Linked DNA regions of Homo sapiens: all the other regions are linked to region 1. The links come from fine-mapping of genetic effects on gene expression. A gene starts in region 1. Each other region holds a variant in brackets. All regions are shown on one strand. Distances are from middle to middle. Region 1 holds the start of GZMM (granzyme M). Region 2 holds the start of BSG (basigin (Ok blood group)). Region 3 overlaps TPGS1 (tubulin polyglutamylase complex subunit 1). Region 4 overlaps BSG (basigin (Ok blood group)).

Region 1 (5,222 bases):
GTGATCCACCCATCTCAGCCTCCCAAAGTGCTGGGATTACAGGTATGAGCCACTGCACCTGGCCATTTTTTTTTTTTTTTTGAGATGGAGTCTCACTCTGTTACCCAGCCTGGAATGCAGTGCCGTGATCTCAGCTCACTGCAACCTCTGCCTCCTGGGTTCAAGCGATTCTCCTGCCTCAGCCTCCCGAGTAGCTGGGATTACAGAAGCGCATCACCACGTCCGGCTAATTTTTTTGTATTTTTAGTAGCGACAGGGTTTCGCCGTGTTGGCCAGGCTGGCCTCAAACACCTAACCTCAGGTGATCCACCCTCCTTGGCCTCCCAAAGTGCTGGGATGACAGGCGTGAGCCACTGTGCCCAGCAAGAAATGTAGTCTTTAAATAAGTAAATTGTATAGTGCATAATTTCCTAATAAAGCTGTACAAAAATTATTTTAAATCAATCATAAATATAAAAGGATTGATTTCATAATGTAACGTAAATCAGCTCAAAATCTTCTCTGAATCCCCATCATGCTTTGAAAATCAAGTCCCCGCTTGCGGGCCGGTGCAGTGGCTCACGCCTATAATCCCAGCACTTTGGGAGGTCAAGGTGGGCAGACAGCCTGAGGTCAGGAGTTGGAGATCAGCCTGGCCAATGTGGTAAAACCCCGTCTGTACTAAAAATACAGAAATTAAGGCCGGGTGCGGTGGCTCACGCCTGTAATCCCAGCACTTTGGGAGGCCGAGGCAGGTGGATCACGAGGTCAGGAGATCGAGACCATCCTGGCTAACACGGTGAAACCCCGTCTCTACTAAAAATACAAAAAATTAGCCGGGCGAGGTGGCGGGCATCTGTAATCTCAGCTACTTGGGAGGCTGAGACAGGAGAATCGCTTGAACCCGGGAGGCAGAGGTTGTGGTGAGCCGAGATCGTGCCATTGCACTCCAGCCTGGGCAAGAATAGCAGAACTCCATCTTAAAAAAAAAAAATAGGCCGGGCGCGGTGGCTCACGCCTGTAATCCCAGCGCTTTGGGAGGCCGAGGCAGGCGGATCACCTGAGGTTGGGAGTTTGAGACCAGCCTGACCAACACGGGGAAACCCTGTCTCTACTAAAAATACAAAATTAGCCCGGCATGGTGGCAGGCGCCTGTAATCCCAGCTACTCGGGAGGCTGAGGCAGGAGAATCGCTTGAAACCAGGAGGCGGAGGCTGCAGTGAGCCGAGATGGCACCATCGCACTCCAGCCTGGGTGACAAGAGTGCAAGTCTAGCTGTGCCTGCAAGCTGCCTGCACCCTGGGCCTTTGTCTGTCTCACTTAGCTGCCTGCGTACCTTTCCCCCACCGGCTTCCTCCCTTGGTTTATGCTCGTCTCCTGCAACGGCCCCCCACCCGCCCTCTTGCCCTCCGTGTTTCCTCCGCTCTGCACAGTCTCATGCCTGGCCTGTCTCTTCCAGTCAGACAGGAGGGCAGGCCTAGAACAGCACGAGCCCTGCAAATACGGATGGATACACAGAAGCACGGGAGAAAGGAAGGAGGGATGGAAGGAGGAATGGATGATGGATGGATGGGAGGGAGGAGGGAAGGAGGGGGGAAAGGAAGAGAGAGGCATGATGGATGGATGGGTGGATACATGGAAGGAGGGAGGGAAGGATGACGGGTGGAGGGAAGGAGGGAGGTTGAAAGGAGGGATGGATGATGGATGGACGGGTGGGTGGAAGAATGGGAGGAAGGAGGAATGATGGGTGGATGGACTGGCGGAGGGAAGGAAGGGGGAACGAAAGGAGGGAGGGAGGGATGGATGATGGACCCATGGGTAGAGGGATGGATGATGGATGGGTGGGTGGAAGAATGGAAGGAGGAATGATGGGTGGACGGACGGGTAGAGGGAAGGAAGGGGAGATGAGGGAGGGAGGGAGGGAGGGAGGGAGGGATGATGGACCCATGGGTGGAAGGAAATAAAAATGGGAGGAAGGATGATGATGACTGACGGCTGGATTCCTACCTCTGTCCATCTTCTTGGGTCCCCAACTCATCAAGAGCCCCTGTCACTCAGTCCAGCTGGAATGCAGGGGAGCCGCCACCCACCTCCCTTCTCCCTCACTGCTGGGCACCTAGTCCCAGCCAAGCCCTTGGTGGTGGCAGGCAGCCAGCGGGGATCGAGTCCCAGCTCTGCCCTCCCAGCTGGGCAGTCCTAGGTCAGCATCTCCTTCGCCAAGTCTCAGTCTCCTACTCTGCACCTCGGGTGTGAGCGTGACCCCTGCCTTCTGGCTGCTGCCGGGAGGATGGGCGAGGTGAGCCGGTGGACACCACACTCTCCCACGGTCCCGGGATGTCCACTCGGGGTGAAGCGTGAGGAGCTCGGGATGCCCCAGGCCTCAGTCCCCCTCCAAACAAGGATGAATCTCCGCTCTTACACCCAGGATGTCGGCGCCCGCGCCCACCCCTCCCATCCAGGGACCCACCGAGAGCGCTGGGCCTCAGTGTCCCCCCTGCATCCCGGCTCCCACTCACCTACTGACAGGGCCCCCAGGGCCAGCACCAGCAGTGAAGACACGCAGGCCTCCATGCCGCTGTGGAGACCCAGTGTGGGTGCTGGCCCCGGCCCCGAGCCTCCCCACACGCGCTTCCTGTGGGGGAGGTGAGGTGACGGTCACAGCCCCGCCCACCGCTGCACACCCTCCACCCTCCATCCTTGAGCATTTTAGAAAGTGTTTCTCAAAGAGGACTCGAGATGAAGCCACACTACCATCATCACACCTGACAAAGTAACACTTTTTTTTTTTTTTTTTTTTCAGAGATGGAGTCTCGCTCTGTCGCCCAGGCTGGAGTGCGGTGGTGCGATCTCGGCTCACTGCAAGCTCCGCCTCCCGGGTTCACGCCATACTCCGGCCTCAGCCTCCCGAGTAGTGGGACTACAGGTGCCCACCACCACGCCCGGCTAATTTTCGTATTCTTAGTAGAGACGAGGTTTCACCATGTTGACCAGGCTGGTCTCAAACTCCCGACCTCAGGTGATCCACCCACCTCGGCCTCCCAGTGCTGGGATTACAGGCATGAGCCACCGCGCCCGGCCACTACTTCCTGCCTCTGAATTGGTCTCTAGGGACCTCCCAGGAGTGGAATCACACAGGACCTGTTGCGTTGGCGTCTCTCCCAGCATGACGTCCTCAAGGTGCATCCAGGCTGTGGCCTGTGTCAGAGCCTCGCTCCTTTTTGTGGCTGTGTCACATCCCATTGTGTGGCTGGACCACGCTGTGTTTATGCATTCACCAGCGGACGGATATTTGCGCTGTTCTAGTTTTTGGTCTTCATGAATAAAGACACTGGCCGAAGGCGGTGGCTCACACCTGTAATCCCAGCACTTTGAGAGACTGGGGCAGGAGGATCGCTTGAGCCCAGGTTGGGGCTGCAGTGAGCCGTAATTGCACCACTGCTCTTCAGCCTGGGTGACAGAGCAAGACCCTGTCTCAAAAATAAATAAATTTAGGCCGGGCGCGGCGGCTCACGCCTGTAATCCCAGCACTTTGGGAGGCCGAGGCGGGCGATCACCTGAGGTTGGGAGTTCGAGACCATCCTGGCCAACATGGTGAAACCCCATCTCTACTAAAAATACAAAAATCAGCTGGGCATGGTGGTGGGAGCCTGTAGTCCCAGCTACTCAGGAGGCTGAGGCAGGAGAATCACTTGAACCCAGGAGGCGAGATCGCACCACTGCACTCCAGCCTGGGCAACACAAGACTGTGTCTCAAAAACAAAACCAAACCAAACCAAGCAGCTATGGATGATCCTGAGACCTGGGTGTGGCTGTGCCAGTAACACTTCACTCACAATAGGGGCGGACGCCAGGTTTGGTCCCGAGGGCCATGGTTTGCTGAGACCCCAGGGCCCCATTTTCTGTCCCAACTTGGTGGGAAACCTCATCCTCACAGCTCCTCGACCCTGAATCAGCCACTGAGCGACTTTCCGGGTGCCCAGAAGCGGAACGCAGGCAGGTTCCTGGAAGGCGGTGCCCCGGGAGGGCATGGGAGCTCCGAGCTTTCCTCCATGACATGTAATAAAACGATGCTGGGGACTTCCTGACACCAGGACGTGAGGTGCCTGCCCTGTGTGCCCAGGGCCACGGCTCCCCACCCCGAGGGTGTGCCTGGACGGAGCTGGAGCCGCCGGAGTGCTGATCGGGGGCATCTGTGGTCCTGGGAGCCCTGAGACGCTGAGATCAACGCCCAGGCGGCTGTGGACCCGCGACGAAGCTTTGCTGGATGCCTGCAGAGGCAGCTCCCGTCCCACTAGATGCACCTGGTCACAGGGAGGAGGAACTCTGGGGGCTTTCTGGCCGCCCCTGTCCCGCAGGCTGGGGGATGCTGCCCAGGCCTGTCTGACCCAAGTCATGGGAACGTACAGGCCGCGGGACCCGGCTGCTCCCCGTGCCTCCCAGGACAGGCCTCCCAGATCCACACCTGGCGTAGCCAGGGTCCCAGTGGGACTGGCCGTGTGCAGTCACTCATGGACGTGGAGGCTGCCTCTCCCTCCCAAGCACAGCTTCTCTGGCCTCTCATAAAGTAGTTTTATTTAGATTTCAAACAAACCAAAGCAGGGAAAAGAGTCGGCCACGGTGAATCCGTCCACTCTGTGCTGGACGTGGCTCCAGGACCTGGAGCTGACAGGCAGGACCGGGCCCCTCGGACCGCTACACCTGGGCCTCCCAGGCTGGTAGTGTCAGGAAACGGCCCCCCGCCCACGTTCCCAGCAGCGCCCCCGTGGCTCCTCCGGGGTGCGGCCAGTCCGGAAGCTGGGGGACCCCGGTAGAAGTCGGGCTCAGCTCCCCTCCCGAGGGGACAGGTGGGCCGGCCGCTCCCACCCTGGGCCCGTCCACCGAGCCCCGAGTGACGTGAGTGGCGGTGGGGCAGCCCCTCTTCTCTGAAGCACGTGAAAACCCAGAACAGACATGGGGAGGGAGAAAAAGCCAAAACGAAACAACCAGAGGAGACGGGGACCAGCACAAAACCTCCGTGAGGTAGTCTGTCGTCTAAGGAGCCACGGGTCCGGCCCTAGTGAGGTAAACTCGGCAAGTTTATTCTGGTGGTGTCAGGACTCCTCCGTGCCAGAGTCATCCTCATCGTCCCCGAAGCAGCTGTCGGCCTCCTCCTCCACCTCGCCGTCCTCGTAGTAGTCGTCGTAGAAGAGGTCTGAGCCCTCGTCGGGCGCCGGCGCCTTGGTCTTCACGCAGTACTCGGCCAG
Region 2 (5,222 bases), 28 kb before region 1:
GTTTCCACAGGGCTGGCGGGGGCGGCTTATCTTCCGCGCTCACCTCACCCATGGGCTCCTATCTGTGTCTCCCCAGAGAGCTGGCCGCAGTGCTGGGGCCAGGCCCTTGCCCAGGAGACATTCGATAAAGGGCCACTTTGGTTACCAGGAAGACGAAATCTCAGACGTAGGTCAGGAGTTAGCTGGCAAAGCCTCTGGAAGAAGGAGCCCCCTCCCCAGCCTCTGCCCAAGGCCCCCTACGGCTCAATGCCCAGGACAGAGGCTCGAAGCCCTTGCTCTTGACCCTTCAGGAGGCCAGACCCTCCAGCTCTGCACCTTGTTCCCAACACATCGGTCACAATAAATTTTTTTTTTGTTTTTTTTTGAGACGGGGTCTCGCTCTGTCGCCCAGGCTGGAGTGCAATGGCGCGATCTCGGCTCACTGCAAGCTCCGCCTCCCTGGTTCACACCATTCTCCTGCCTCAGACTCCCTAGCAGCTGGGACTACAGGCGCCCGCCACCACGCCAGGCTAATTTTTTGTATTTTTAGTAGAGACGGGGTTTCACCGTGTTAGCCACGATGGTCTTGATCTCTTGACCTCGTGATCCGCCCGCCTCGGCCTCCCAAAGTGCTGGGATTACAGGCGTGAGCCACCATGCCCGACCTCTTTTTTTTTTTTTTTTAAAGACAGAGTCTCCCTGTTACCCAGGCTGGAGTGCAGTGGCATGATATCAGCTCACTGCAACCTTCACCTCCCAGGTTCAAGCGATTCTCTTGCCTCAGCTTCCTGAGTGGCTGGGATTACAGGCGTGCGCCAACACGCCCAGCTAATTTTTGTATTTTTAGTAGAGATGGGGTTTCACCATGTTGGCCAGGCTGGTCTTGAACTCCTGACCTCAGGTGATCCACCCGCCTCAGCCTCCCAAAGTGCTGGGATTACAGGTGTGAGCCACCACGCCCGGCCTCACTATAAATCTTTAACCCAGAACCAAATGGGGGTCTCAACAAAGGAAGAAATTTTCTATGAAGCAAGAAAGGATGTCATGCTTTTCTCCCGGAAAAACACACCTCAATCCATTTCCCAAATGCGCTCTCCAAACCACGTTTGCCCACCCTCAACACACGGCCCTCCTAAGACAGCACTGGAAACCGAATGCGGGTCAGAGTCGGCTAAAAACGACTTTCTCACTATTTCCTGCGCTGAATCGGGTGGCCAGGGCCCCCTCACTGTGACCTTGGAACCTCGACTTCCCACAGGGCTGTTTCCTCGCCTGTAAAGGAGGAGGGGCGTTCAGAGACCACCTCATTCTGGGTGCTGAATCCAGGCAGAATCAGAGGGAGATTCCGCCTTCCCTTCCACGCAGGGCCCCTCGAGGGAGCCTGCGAGGTCTTAAGAGTCTGGGAGAACACCCGGGGGCAGGTGCACGCCCTAGGCAAGACGCCAGGGCTAAATCCCGTGAAGAACGGTAATCCCTTCCCGATCCGGAGGGCTGACCCACTCAGAGCCTCCATGTGCTCTTGGAGGACAAAAGCCCCTTTTCCAGAAGGGAGCGCCAAGATGATCGCTCCAGGCCGCACGGGCCCTTGCGGGGGCCCCAGAGAGTCTCAGGGGAGGGTCTCTGACCCTAACACTCGCAGGCAGGGTGGACCCGTCTCCAGATTCCACGCCCAGGCCGCTTTCCCCAGGTCCTGCGGAGTCCAGCCCCAGCAGGACGGGTTGGGCAGGCACCAACCAGCCCCTGACCCCTGGCTCCAGGCCAAAGGGGACGCTCACCCAGGCTTTGGGTCTCCCTTCTCCTGGCCGATGGGACCGGCGGGCGGGCCACCTCCAACCGCCTTCGCAGACGCCCTCACCCAGGAAGCAGGTCACCCCCAACCCCAGGTGACCGAAAAGCAAGACGCCCACCTCCCCTGACCAAGACCGGCCTGGCCAGGACCCCCTGGCTCCCGCCTCCAAGCAGGGAGCTTCACGCCCACACACAGAGGCCGGGCTCGAGGCCGGAGCGCCCGGGGGAGCCCGGCAGGCCGCGCCGGGAGGAACCTCTAGTCCCCCCTCAAACCCTGGGACTTCACCCCCAAGCTCCATGCTGGCGCGGGAAGCCCCCGGGGCCGGCCTTTCGCACCCCAGGCCGCCCCGCGCCGAGGCCCCAGGCTCCCGTCGGCTTCGGGTCGGCACCGCGGCCTCCATTCCCGGCCCCTGCAGGACCGCACCCCCGCCCCCTACCCGCTCCTCACCAGCCCCGGAGGCTCCGTGGGTGCCCAGCAGCGCGAATCCCAGCAGCACGAACAGCGCAGCCGCCATGATTCCTATTCCTCGCCGGTCCTACAACCTCCAACCGCTGCCGCCGCCGCCCGCGGCCGCTATAAAAAGCGGCGGAGGCGCGGACCGGGCGCGCGCACGCACGGCGTCATCTCGGGGGCGGGGCGAGCGCCGGGGACGCCGGTCGCCCCGCCTGCGCACGCGCGCACACGCTCGCATGTACGCGCCGGCTCCGGCAGGCTCACGCTACGGAATCCGGGCGGCGGCGCACGTGACCCGGCGTTGCTAGGAAACGGGAGTGGGGCCTGCGGGGACGCGGCTGGAGCCTGCGCATTTCTTCCTTCCTGCTTTCAAAGTTGCAATGAGCGCAGAGCGGTGCGCCCGAGGGGGTTGAAGCGTTGAAAGTGTGTTACCCAGATTTTATCTGAGTTAAACACGGGCCGGCCGCTGTGGCTCACGTCTGTACTCCCAGAGCCTTGGGAGGTCGAGGCGGGAAGATCGCTTGAGCCCGGGAGCTCGAGACCAGACGCGGCAACATGGCGAGACGCACATCTCTGCCTTTAAAAATGTACATATATATATATATATAT[G/ATG]AACGTATTAATAAATTAGGTGGGAGGAAGTGACCTCCTCCGCCCAAATAAAAATACTTAAAGGGCACTTGAATCTGGATCTCAGAAAATGAATAATTTCTTAGTATAAACGTCCTGTGCACCATTTGGTTGGGACAAGTAAGTTCCTCTTCAGAAACTCAACTTCCAGGTCTAAAGTTGTCAATCAACCTTACCCCCTTCTTCTTTCCTCGCAGGTGGCGCGTTTACCCTATTTTAAAAAAGTTTTAAGTTTTAGCCAACCGGGATCAGCTTAGATTGTGGGCGTCCAACCCCAGCCAACAGGGAAAGGACAGAGGAACAGAAGCTCCCTTCCTTTGTCCCGTGTGCTCTGGAGATTGCATCCCACGCAGGCAGCCCCCTTCCGTACAAGTAAAGTGGTCTCGCTGAGAAATTTTCTAAGTGCTGGTTTCTCTTTGCGGGACCGACTCGCCGCCCCCAAATATCCCATTTGGATCCCATTCTGTTTCAGGAGAGGCTGGCGGTTACCTTTCTTGGGGAGACGCGTCCGACTGCTTCATTGTGGGGGCCTCAGGAGCGGAGGATCGGGTCCCGCCCGAGGTGACGCGTAAACCCAGACTCTCAGCAACGCGGGTAGGAAGGACCCTTGAAGTTCCGCGGCGACCACGGTGAGAAAAGTCGCTATTGGGGCGACACAGGTGGGGGCGTCTCTTGGAGGTTGAAAGTGTGTGTTGGAAGTTAAACTCGGAGTCGCAATGCAAGAGGACCGCAGACTAAGCCGAACGCGAAGGGCTAACTGGAAAGGGGCAGGAATGTGGCTACACTGGCGGGAAGAGCCCGTGGCGACGGGAGGGGGATGTGCAGAGTGGGTGGCAGGTGCCATCTCTGCAGATCAGGACCGGCGGGAAACTTGTTTACTGAGACTCAGACGGGGAGGCCCAGAGGGTGAGGAAGTCAGGTTGGCCTTGGAAGTAGGAAACGAAGAACGAGGGCGCTGAACGAGCCAAACCTTTGAAGAGGAACTTGTGAATGAATGAGACGCGCCATATCTTTTGTGTGTGTGTGTGTTGGAGTCTCGCTGTGTCACCCAGGCTGGAGTGCAGCGGCGCGATCTCGACTCTCTGCAACCTCCGCCTCCCGGGTTCAAGCGATTCTCCTGCCTCAGCCTCCTGAGTAGCTGGGATTACAGGCGCGCACCACCACGCCCGGCTAATTTTTGTATTTTTAGCAGAGACGCCCCATATCTAAAGAAGGGTGGGATCCTCTAGACCACCTTCCCCCACTCACCCCTCCGCCCCTCCCAACCCACCCCCTCCGCCCCTCCCAACCCACCCCCTCCGCCCCTCCCAACCCACCCCCTCCGCCCCTCCCAACCCACCCCCTCCGCCCCTCCCAACCCACCCCTCCGCCCCCCCCACCCACCCACCCCACCCCTCCGCCCCTCCCCAACCCGCCCCTCCGCCCCTCCCACCCACCCCTCGCCCCTCCGCCCCTCCCCCACCCGCTCCTCCGCCCCTCCATCCCTCCCCTATAGAACCACCTGGACCTTGCCACCCACATCCCCGCTGGACAGCCACTAGAACATGCCCCTTCCTCAGGAAAGCTCCAACGGGAAACAGAACAATGCCAAAGGGATATTCGAAACTTTCGGCCGGGCGCGGTGGCTCACGCCTGTAATTCCAGCACTTTGGGAGGCAGAGGCGGGTGGATCACGAGGCCAGGAGTTCAGGACTGGCAGCCTGGCCACGATGATGAAACCTCGCCTCTACTAAAAATACGAAAATTAGCCGGACGTGGTGGCGGGCGCCTGTAATTCCAGCTACTCAGCTACTCGGGAGGCTGAGGCAGGGAATGTCTTGAACCCGGGAGGTGGAGCTTGCAGTGAGCCGAGATCGCGCCACCGCACTCCAGCCTCGGCAACAAGAGCGAGACTCCGTCTCAAAAAACAAACAAACAAACAAAAACCCACAGAACTTTCCTTTTGCCTCCTGCTCAAAAAGACCTGCCTCAGCCCTTTTCCCCTTTAGGGAAGGACCACCGGGAGGAAGGGATATTGACTTCGTAAATGCCCCCTTTAACCAGTTCAGAGGTTAGAAATCTAAAAGAACTCAAACCACTGTTAGATGACCCTTTTGGATTCGCGGATCAAATTGACCAATTTCTGGGGCCACAGCTGTACGCTTGGGCTGAATTAATGTCTACCCTCAGTACTCTCGTCTCAGGAGAGAGAGAACCATGATTCACAGGCCGCTGTGTTAGTCTGGGAGCGTGAACACCCCCCGGTCAGAACGTCCTTTCAGCGGAGCGTAAATTCCTGGCCCAAGATCCTGGGTGGGATGACAATGTGACCTAAAAAACATGAGCGATCTCGGAGATGGGATAATTACAAGGATTCGGGAATCAGATCTGCAAA
Region 3 (5,000 bases), 27 kb after region 1:
ACGAAGCAGGTGAGTGTGCCCGCGCGGAAGACGCTCAGCGGCACCGCCTCGTGGTCACGGCACTGCACCTTGCGCAGCAGCGGCGCCACCACCTCCTCGGGGGCTTGGCCGTCCCGGCAGATGCGCCTGAGCAGCTCGCTGTAGGTGCGCCCGTCCAGCCCCGGCCTCTTCCTGCGCCCGCCGGCGCTCAGGCACTCGTAGGCCACGCTCACGTTGTTGTTGAAGGCGGCCCTGCGGAGACGGGGACGTTGGGGGCCGGCAGAGACCGCGCGCCCACCCAGCCCCAGCCTCCCCTCCTCGCCAGGCCTATGCCCTAGCCTCCCCGACCCCCCAGCCAGCCCTGGCCTCCCCTCTCCTCCTACCCCCCATCCCCGGCCTCCCCTCCTCCTCACCCTCTATCCCTGAAGCTCCTCTCTTGAGCCCCCGCCTCCCTTCTCCCAGCTAGGGCCTCTCCTCCCCGCAGCATCCCCAGCCCGGGCCTCTCCTCCCCCAAGCATCCCCAGCCCGGGCCTCTCCTCCCCCCAGCATCCCCAGCCCAGGCCTCCCTCCTCCCAGTCCCCTCCCAGCCCAGGCCTCCCTCCCCCAAGCATCCCCAGCCTGGGCCTCTCCTCCCCCAGCATCTCCAGCCCAGGCCTCCTCCTCTCAGCCCCCTCCCAGCCCTGGCCTCTCCTCCCCCCAGTATCCCAAGCCCAGGCCTCCCTCCTCCCAGCCCCTACCCAGCCCGGGCCTCCCTCTTCCCAGCCCCTACTCAACCTGGGCCTCCCCTCCCCACCCCACCAGCACTCCCAGCCTGGGCCTCCCTCCTCCCAGCCCCTACCCAGCCTGGACCTCCCCTCCTCCCAGCTCCCACCCAGCCTGGCCTCCCTCCTCCCAGCCCCTACCCAGCCGGGGCCTCCCTCTTCCCAGCCCCTACTCAACCTGGGCCTCCCCTCCCCACCCCACCAGCACTCCCAGCCTGGGCCTCCCTCCTCCCAGCTCCCACCCAGCCTGGCCTCCTTCCTCCCAGCACCCCCCAGCCCGGGGCTCCCTCCTCCCAGCACCCACCCAGCCAGGCCTTCCTCCTCCCAGCACCCCCTCAGCCTGGGCCTCCCCTCCCCACCAGCACCCCCAGCCTCGGCCTCCTCCCAACCTGGATCTCCCTCCTCCCAGCCTCTACCCAGCCTGGGCCTCCTCCCAACCTGGATCTCCCTCCTCCCAGCCTCTACCCAGCCTGGGCCTCCTCCTCCCAGCCCCCACCCAGCCTGGCCTCCCTCCTCCCAGCACCGCCCAGCCCGGGCCTCCCCTCCCCACCAGCACCCCCAGCCTCGGCCTCCTCCTCCCAACCTGGGTCTCCCTCATCCCCGCCTCCACCCAGCCTGGCCTCCCCCGTCCCAGCCCCTACCCAGCCTCGGCCTCCTCCTCCCAGCACCCCCCAGCCTGGCCTCCCCCCTCCCAGCCCCCACCCAGCCTGGCCTCCGTCCTCCCAGCACCCCCCAGCCTGGGTCTCCCCCCTTCTAGCCCCCACCCAGCCTGGCCTCCCTCCTCCCAGCCCCCACCCATCCTGGCCTCCCCCCTCCCAGCCCCCACCCAGCCTGGCCTCCGTCCTCCCAGCACCCCCCAGCCTGGGCCTCCCCCCTTCCAGCCCCCACCCATCCTGGCCTCCATCCTCCCAGCCCCCACCCAGCCTGGCCAGCCCCCACCCAGCCTGGCCTCCCCCCTCCCAGCCCCCACCCAGCCTGGCCTCCCCCCTCCCAGCCTCCACCCAGCTCAGGCCTCTCCTCCCCGCAGCTCCCATCCAGCCCTGGCTTCCCAGCTCCAACTGGACCGGCCTCAGGGCCTCTGCAAGGGCCGTGACACTGCCTTCCCCCAGATCTCCCTCACCTCCTCCCTGGTCTCCTCCAGGTCTCTCCTCAAATGTCGCCTCCCCTGACCCCTAACTCCTTTCCTCCTGTTTTCTTCCTAGTGGTCATCCTGTCTCACTCGCTGTCCCACATCCCTGTGAGCTTCATGTCTCCCACCAGTGTGAGCACCTGCCCTCCAGGGCCGGAAGTTCGTCTTGGTTATAGCCCTGGTGCCCAGAACACTGCCCTGCCCACAGTAGGTGCTCAGTAAATGTCTTGAATCAACGGCAGGCATCTGTCTGGGGCATCTGGCCCCAGTGAAGAAGGAATTAGTGAAATCAGCTCTAACCTAATAGTAGTAGTCATAGAAATTTTAAAATCCTCTTAAAGTTGCTGCAAAGTGTGACCCCCACCCTTACACTCAAGTTAAAAGAGAATGTTAACAGCCTGTCTTCTCTCTGTAGTCAGTGGACCTTATCTATACTCTCCAACTCCACATTCCTCAGTTTATTACAGGCCCAGCGAGTTCCTGCTTACCTCCCTAGCACGGCTGCAGGGTCACAAAACCG[A/G]TAAGTTTAGGTTGTAAGACATGTTTTTCTCAAGATGTGAGAAATGTTGGCCAGGCACGGTGGCTCACGCCTGTAATCCCAGCACTTTGGGAGGCCGAGGTGGGAGGATCACAAGGTCAAGAGATTGAGGCCATCCTGGCCAACATGGTGAAACCCCATCTCTACTAAAAATACAAAAATTAGCGGGACGTGGTGGTACACGTCTGTAGTCCCAGCTACTCGGGAGTCTGAGGCAGGAGAATCGCTTGAACCTGGGAGGTGGAGGTTGCGGTGAGCCAAGATGGCGCCACTGCACTCCAGCCTGGGCGACAGAGCGAGACTCCGTCTCAAAAAAAAAAAAAAGAAAAAGAAAAAAGAAATGCTGTAATGCTTAACTGCCTTTGTTTCTCGCCTCTGTAACTTGCTTCCCGCCTCACGTAGTTCCCGCCTTACGATGTTTAAAAATAGGAAAAGCCCTTTGTTCGAGGCTCAGACTTTCTGGATGTATGTCCAGCTGAGCCGGTGATCACCTTGATAAACTCTCCTGAACCTTTTTCGGTCTCTCCACTCTTTGTCCCACAACACCAGGACCCTCTGGTCTCCCTCCCTGCAGCAGCAGCGCCTGTTTACATGTGGCCAAATACTGTGCCCAACATTTAACACAACTGACATTTGTTTTTTTCTTTTCTTTCTTTCTTTCTTCCTTTTTTTTTTTTTTTTGAGACGGAGTCTCGCTCTGTCGCCCGGGCTGGAGTGCAGTGGCGGGATCTCGGCTCACTGCAAGCTCCGCCTCCCGGGTTCACGCCATTCTCCTGCCTCAGCCTCCCAAGTAGCTGGGACTACAGGCGTCCGCCACTATGCCCGGCTAATTTTTTGTATTTTTAGTAGAGACGGGGTTTCACCGTTTTAGCCGGGATGGTCTCGATCTCCTGACCTCGTGATCCACCCGCCTCGGCCTCCCAAAGTGCTGGGATTACAGGCGTGAGCCACCGCGCCCGGCCCTCTTTCTTTTTTTGAGACAGTGTCTCACTCTGTTGTCAGGCTGGAGTGCAGTGGCACAATCTCAGCTCACAGCAACCTCCACCTCCCGGGTTCAAGCGATTCTCCTGCCTCAGCCTCCTGAGCTGCTGGGATTACAGGCGTGTGTTACCACACCCAGCTAATTTTTGTATTTTTAGTAGAGACGGGGTTTCACCATGTCGGCCAGGATGGTCTGGATCTCGAGTGACCTCGTGGTCCGCCCACCTCGGCCTCCCAAAGTGCTGGGATTACAGGTGTGAGCCACTGCGCCCAGTCTGTGCTGAACATTTAACACAGCTGACATTGCATTTTTTCTTTTTTTTTTTTTTTTGAGACAGGGTCTCACTGTGTTGTGCAGGCTGGAGAGCAGTGGTACAATCAGGGCTCACAGCAGCCTCCACCTCCTGGGCTCAAGCGATCCTCCTGCCTCAGCCTCCCAAACTGCTGGGATTACAGGTGACAGTTGCTGCTCGGGGCCAGTGGTGGTATTTCTCTCCCCACAATCCCACAGGCAAGGCCCCACAGTCAGCCTGAGGGTCAAATACGACCTGCTGCCTGCTTTTGTAAATAAAGCTTTATCGGAACATAACCACATCAGTCCGCTGACATGTGGCCTGTGGCAGCTTCCGACCAGAACCGTAGAGCTGAATGTCAGGATGGAGGCTGCCACGCAAAGCTGAAATGTTCACTATCTGGCCCCTTACAGAAGAAGGCTGTCAGCCCTGCTGCCGGCTCTGGGGTGGGTTCGATTCCCTGCCCCAGTGAGGAGCCTGAGGCCTTACTACGTGCCACTCGTGTGCTGGTAGTGTGACACACACTCCCGTGGAGGGCACCAGGGAGTGGCCAGGGAGCACCGTGGCCAGCGTGGGGGCCGCTGCAGGACCCTGGGTGGGCTGCTTAACCCCCTGGCCTCACTCCCCCCATCAGTTCCCGGCCAGGCCTCATGCTAGTGGCCTGTTACTTCCTCTGGGACATATAGGGAAACTGAGGCTCAGGGCAGCCCCATGGTCTGGCCAAGGGTCCCAGAGAGGAAGTGGCCAACCTCAGGGCTTACGCTTTTCCCTTCTGGGAGCTCAGCTTCATGGTGAGGAGGGCAGCCTTCCCTCCGGCATGACCTGGGCACACGACTTCACCTTTCTGTGGGCCACCTGTGGTAGGTGCCGGGGAAGTGCTAAGCCAGCATGCAGTAGGTGCTCAGTAAATGCAGGGTTGGTGTGCAGCAGGTGCTCAGTAATGCAGGGCTGGTACACAGTAGGTGCTCAGTGATGCTGGGCCAGAATGCAATAGGTGCTCAGTAAATGTGGGGCTGGTGTGCAATAGGTACTCAGTAATGCTGGGGCGGTGTGCAGTGGGTGCTCAGTAAATGCTGGGCCAGTAAGCAATAGGTGCTTAGTAAACGTGGGGTCGGTGTGCAGTGGGTGCTCAGTAATACAGGGCCGGTGTAGAGTAGGTGCTCAGTGAATGCAGGGCCAGTACACGGTAGGTACTCAGTAATGCTGGGGCGGTGTGCAGTGGGAGTGAAGTAAATGCTGGGCCAGCATGCAATAGGTGCTCAGTAAATGTAGGGTCAGTGTGCAGTGGGTGCTCAGTAATACAGGGCTGGTGTACAGTA
Region 4 (5,222 bases), 37 kb before region 1:
GAAATCCCAGTACTGGACGCACCCCTGCTGTGACCACCAGAGCCCAGGGTGCACCTGCTCTCGGAAAACCCAACCCCGTCAGGCACAGACAGGAGCCAGGAGAGGGTGAGGGTGGAGGTGGGGGCGATCTTTATTGTGGCGGTGGGTGGGAGGGGGGTTCCCACGTGAGCCCTGGTGCTATAGAGAGCCGGCCGTCCTCCAGGGGTGAGCTGGGGAGGCTTCTGCGGTTCTGGAGTCCCGGCGATGGCGCCAGTTCCCCAGCAAACCCCCTCCAGAGCTGCCCCCGGATGCACAGACAAGGAGGGGGCTTGGGAGTGACTTGAGGCTGTGACGGGGTCGCCCTCGGTGTGGGCAAGTGAGTCCTCTGTGGCCAAGAGGTCAGAGTCGTCCCTGAGGCTGAGTCGAACACAGACCCGTGGCCCTCATAAAATTAAACATAAAAGCACAAAAATGGCGCAACCAGACAGCATTGGCTTCAGACAGGCAGGACACGGGGCCCCTCGTGTGACCTGTGACTTTCCACAAAGGGCAAGGACCTGGCACTGACTCCGGCCAGTGGAGAAGGCTGTGCCGCCCACCCGGCCATGACTCAGACCCAGAGGCTGAAAGCCACAGACGGGGCCGCAGGGCAGCAGCTCCCGGGCTCTCGTGAAACACTTCAGAAGGAAAAAAACCTAAGGAACAGAATCCTGAATGGAGAAAACCCAACTTTTTTAAAAAAGAAGGAAGTGTATGATGGGAATCTACGGGGTGGGTTTTCTTTAAGAGGTGAGAACTTGGAATCTTGCAAGCACTGGGAGTGGACTCCGGCGGCGGCGCAGACGTGGAGCAGGGAGCGTCCTCGGGCCACCTGTGGACAGGGAGGGGCGCTCAGACTGGACCCACCTCCCAGCGACCCACAGGCGGGACCCAGGAGCCCACACCTGGCTAGCAGATCCCGCCCACCACACCTGGCTCAGGAGTTCCCGCCCACCCACCCACCACACCTGGCTCAGGAGGAGCTCCCGCCCACCGCACCTGCCTCAGGAAGAGTTCCTCTGGCGGACGTTCTTGCCTTTGTCATTCTGGTGCTGCCCGCTGCTCTTCCTGGGGCACGAGGGGCCGGGTGAGAGGGTGTCCCCCGCAAGTCACTCTCTCCAAGTCACCCCTGCCCACCCCGGCCCCCAGGACCCCCGAATACTGAAGCCCAGGGGCTCTGCCTTTGTGTTTTAAAGGCCTGGGGCAGCAGGCCGCTCCTTGGGACCCCCGACCCCCACAGCTGGAACTTACAGGGGTGCAGAGCCGGCGTCGTCATCTGAAGAAGGACCGCCGCCATGAAAAAGAGGACGAGAGGACAGCCTGTCAGCACTGGCCCCACTCAGGCCCCGAGCAGGGGCATCTGTGCTGCCAGCCCTGCCCTCAGTGACCCCCAGGGGTGGCTCGGGGCAGCTCATCAGCCCCGGCCACGTGCATCTTCTGAGTGCTGTGGGGAAAGGCAGCCCTCCCCACCTGCAGGTGTGCTCCCCATGGTGAGCTGTCCCCATGGCCTCGTGGGCCTCACCCCTGCCCCACAGCGTTTTCCAGGAGCTGCCATCACAGGCCCCACACAGGCCTCGCCCCGGCACACGCAGCCCAAGGGGCAGAAGGGCTCCGCGAGGAGGCAGGCAGGGGCTGCCGGAGCACAGCATGGCTGACCTCAGGTTCCCGAGCCTGATCATGCAGAGCAGCAAGGGCCGGCTCACCACGGAGGACACTGGCTTGCAGCCAAGTGAGCGGGAGGGAAGGGCCGGGTGAGGCTGTGGGGCGGAGGTGCCGCCTCCTCCTCCCGGGGTCCCGCTGCCCACTGAGCCGCAGCTGCCCGGGGCTAGACCCTCCATCCCACACTTTCTTTCGGGGTCCCATCAACTCCCTGCCTGGGGCTCCTCAGTTCCAAGCTCTGGGTCAGCGGTGGGGCTGGCAGGGACGGACCAGGAGTGGCCCTGGGCCACCCCGAGAGCAGGGCATGTGGGCAGGAGGGCAGACGGCTCACCATCCAGGACGTCCTCGGGCTTCCGGCGCTTCTCGTAGATGAAGATGATGGTGACCAGCACCAGCACCTCAGCCACGATGCCCAGGAAGGGCCAGAGGGCGGCCAGGTGGCTGCGCACGCGGAGCGTGATGATGGCCTGGTCGGAGCCCTTGGAGCTGGTGCCGTTGCACCGGTACTGGCCGGGGTCGGCCTCCATGTTCAGGTTCTCAATGTGTAGCTCTGACCGGCCCTGCGAGGAACTCACGAAGAACCTGCTCTCGGAGCCGTTCATGAGGGCCTAGGGGACCAAAGGCAAGGGCTGAGTCCAGGACCCCCAGTCTAGGCCCCTCACCCAGTCCTGAGGGCTGAGTCCGGGACCCCCAGTCTAGGCCCCTCACCCAGTCCGGAGGGCTGAGTCCGGGACCCCCAGTCTAGGCCCCTCACCCAGTCCGGAGGGCTGGGTCCGGGACCCCCAGTCTAGGCCCCTCACCCAGTCCTGAGGGCTGGGTCCGGGACCCCCAGTCTAGGCCCCTCACCCAGTCTGGAGGGCTGCAGTCCAGAGGGCTGGGTCCGGGACCCCCAGTCTAGGCCCCTCACCCAGTCCGGAGGGCTGGGTCCGGGACCCCCAGTCTAGGCCCCTCACCCAGTCCGGAGGGCTGGGTCCGGGACCCCCAGTCTAGGCCCCTCACCCAGTCCTGAGGGCTGGGTCCGGGACCCCCAGTCTAGGCCCCTCACCCAGTCCTGAGGGCTGGGTCCGGGACCCCCAGTCTAGGCCTCTCACCCAGTCCTGAGGGCTGGGTCCAGGACCCCCAGCCTCCT[T/G]GGCTTCTCACCTTGTCCTCAGAGTCAGTGATCTTGTACCAGGCCCAGTCAGTGACAGGTGGCACGGACTCTGACTTGCAGACCAGCATGGCCGTCTCCCCCTCGTTGATGTGTTCTGACGACTTCACAGCCTTCACTCTGGGAGGCCCTGACAGGAGGGTGAGAGAGAGGAGCCTGGAACCGCAGGCCCGCCCCCATCCCCGGCCTCCCGCAGGAGGGCTGTTCCCCTCCAGGGAGCAGGGGGCCAGGGCTCTGGGATGTGCCGGGTGCCTCAGGCCAACAACTTCTCCCGACAGTCGGTGGTGCCCGGTACCCCTGGCTGCAGGACTCACCGTGGAGCTGGATGTTGGCCGTGCCCATGGGCTCGGGGAGGAAGACGCAGGAGTACTCTCCCCACTGGTCGTCGGAGTCCACCCTGCAACCACAGCAGGCAGGTGAGCCGCGTACCAGCTCTGCAGGACGCCTCCAAGGACCCAGGGTTCTCCAGGGGCCCAACCACGGCACAGTGAAAAAGCAAAACTGTCCCAGTCAAGTCTGAACCTCAAAAGAACTCCTGGGGTCCCCGTGCGGCCCCAAGGACAGAGCCAGGCTGGCAAGACCCCACAGGTGAGAGAACCAACAGACCCCCTTCTCCCCGACTGATGAACCCCACACCTCTGGTCCCTGCTCTGCACCCCACACCCTGTGACCGTCTTCCCAGTCAGCCTGAAAACAAAAGGCTCTGTGCTCCCAGGGCCGTCCCAGCCCCAGTTATGACAAAGCTCCGGCCATGACAGCGTCTGGGGTCCGAGCAGGGCATGCCTCAGTGTGGTGCCCTCTTGTGCCAGGAGCACAGAGCCTGGGAGGCCCGCACACGTGCCCGGGACCTGGCAGTGTGGCGCCCTTTCGTGCCCGGGACCTAGTGAGGAGCAAGCAATGGGGACTCCTGCCAGGGCTGCTGGAGCCCCCTGCCTCACAAGGACGCCCCTCAGACCCCTCCCTGGGGTTTCCCTCTGGGGGTCTGCGCGGAGCTGGTCCCTAACTTCCGCCTGGATCAAGCCTGCCGACCGGTCTTTTGTTCTCACGGACCACAGGCCGCTGGCGGCAAGAGAGCCGTGAGAAGGGGCAGGTGGCGGCATGGCGTGGTCAGGCACTCACTTGAACTCCGTTTTCTGGCCGGGCAGCGCGTCCTCCTTCAGCACCACGCCCCCCTTCAGCCAGCGGTGCCCTGTGACCTCTGTGGCGCTGTCATTCAAGGAGCAGGTGAGGAGTATCTTGGAGCCAAGGTCTTCTACGGTAGTGAAGACTGTGCCGGCTGCAAGGCCCGGCGAGACGCGGTCAGCAGAGTGGAGGAGCACGGCCCGCGCTGCCTGCCTGACCCCCAGGAACCTGCGGCTCCTCCCCGGGAAGGACTGGTTTTCATCCCAAAAATACACCGTGGCCCTTACGCCCCGAGGACCGGAGGCCCAAGGGGAACTTCTGGCCACGCCTCCGGGAAGGGAAGAGCCCAGCGCCTGCTGAGGAGGCCCCTTCGGGAAGGCACCCCCTTCGGGAAGGCACCCTTCGCTGGCAGCTGGCGGGCCCTGGGCTAAGGCGCTGGGAACCCAGAGGCCCCGCCTGGCGATGTTCCTGCCCAGAGACACACGAGGCTGGGACCAGGGTGTGGGGACAGACAAGGCACCCACCCACGTCCCTGAGCAGGGACCAGGGCATCGAGCTCTTGTAGCAGCCCCAGCACAAACTGGAAATTCTTTTCTAAAAACGTAGCCAGCTGGGCGCGGTGGTGGCCGGGCGCGGAGGCTCACGCCTGTAATCCCAGCACTTTGGGAGGCCAAGGCGGGTGGATCTCGAGGTCGGGAGATCGAGACCATCCTGGCTAACACGGTGAAACCCCGTCTCTTCTAAAAATACAAAAAATTAGCTGGGCATGTTGGCTCATGCCTGTAATCCCAGCTACTCAGGAGGCTGAGGCAGAAGAATCGCTTGAACCCGGGAGGCGGAAGTTGCAGTGAGCCGAGATTGTGCCACCACACTCCACCTGGGAACAGCAAGACTCCATCTCCAGGAAAAAAAAAAAAAATAGCCACAGCACCCCCGGCCAAGGCTCCCGTGCCCTTCTCTAGGAGGCACTCAGGTGGCCCCACATCCCCCCAGCCCCAGGCTGACGGCACTCCAGCAGTGCTGGGAGCACCCCGGTTCTTCTGCCAATCCCCAACCAAGCAAATCTCTTGGTTCTTGGTTAGTTTACAATATTCCCGCTAGGAATTGAAATTTGAAAATCCCTTAGAACGAGATGCTGCGAAGGACACAGAAGGTTCTGAGACCTGCAAGCCTGGGCTGAGCTTGGAGGGCCCCTCAGGCTTGCAGTATGGACGCTCAGGGAGGGAGCCGGGCAGGCGCCCGGGGAAGCAGAAACGACGGAACGGATGGCACGAGG

The links. PIP is the estimated chance that this variant, and not a neighbour inherited with it, causes the effect.
Region 2: its variant is fine-mapped to the expression of GZMM in whole blood (INTERVAL, PIP above 0.99).
Region 3: its variant is fine-mapped to the expression of GZMM in whole blood (TOPMed, PIP above 0.99).
Region 4: its variant is fine-mapped to the expression of GZMM in whole blood (TOPMed, PIP 0.98).

What each region holds. Positions count from the first base shown.
Region 1 is chr19:541,400-546,621 of GRCh38, reverse strand. It overlaps GZMM (granzyme M), which reads right to left and starts at 2,569. Exons shown (of 5, transcript NM_005317.4): 1 at 2,496-2,569. The coding sequence starts at 2,550. It overlaps CDC34 (cell division cycle 34, ubiquitin conjugating enzyme), which reads right to left. Exons shown (of 5, transcript NM_004359.2): 5 at 4,535-5,222. The coding sequence ends at 5,070. RefSeq lists an enhancer at 2,556-3,201.
Region 2 is chr19:569,695-574,916 of GRCh38, reverse strand. BSG (basigin (Ok blood group)) reads right to left here and starts at 2,321. Exons shown (of 9, transcript NM_001728.4): 1 at 2,216-2,321. The coding sequence starts at 2,282. BSG-AS1 (BSG antisense RNA 1) reads left to right here and starts at 2,669. Exons shown (of 3, transcript NR_184018.1): 1 at 2,669-2,808; 2 at 3,321-3,477. RefSeq lists silencers at 1,981-2,160, 2,331-2,550 and enhancers at 3,371-3,420, 3,501-4,073. The variant G/ATG (reference allele first, on the strand shown) is at 2,831.
Region 3 is chr19:514,120-519,119 of GRCh38, reverse strand. TPGS1 (tubulin polyglutamylase complex subunit 1) reads right to left here. Exons shown (of 2, transcript NM_033513.3): 2 at 1-231. Among named protein-coding and RNA genes, the nearest start is that of MADCAM1-AS1, 8.7 kb to the right of the region's middle. RefSeq lists an enhancer at 1-662. The variant A/G (reference allele first, on the strand shown) is at 2,390.
Region 4 is chr19:578,378-583,599 of GRCh38, reverse strand. BSG (basigin (Ok blood group)) reads right to left here. Exons shown (of 9, transcript NM_001728.4): 3 at 3,944-4,100; 4 at 3,139-3,221; 5 at 2,818-2,954; 6 at 2,009-2,285; 7 at 1,270-1,294; 8 at 1,018-1,086; 9 at 107-850. The coding sequence ends at 1,023. Among named protein-coding and RNA genes, the nearest start is that of BSG, 8.4 kb to the right of the region's middle. RefSeq lists an enhancer at 1-223. The variant T/G (reference allele first, on the strand shown) is at 2,807.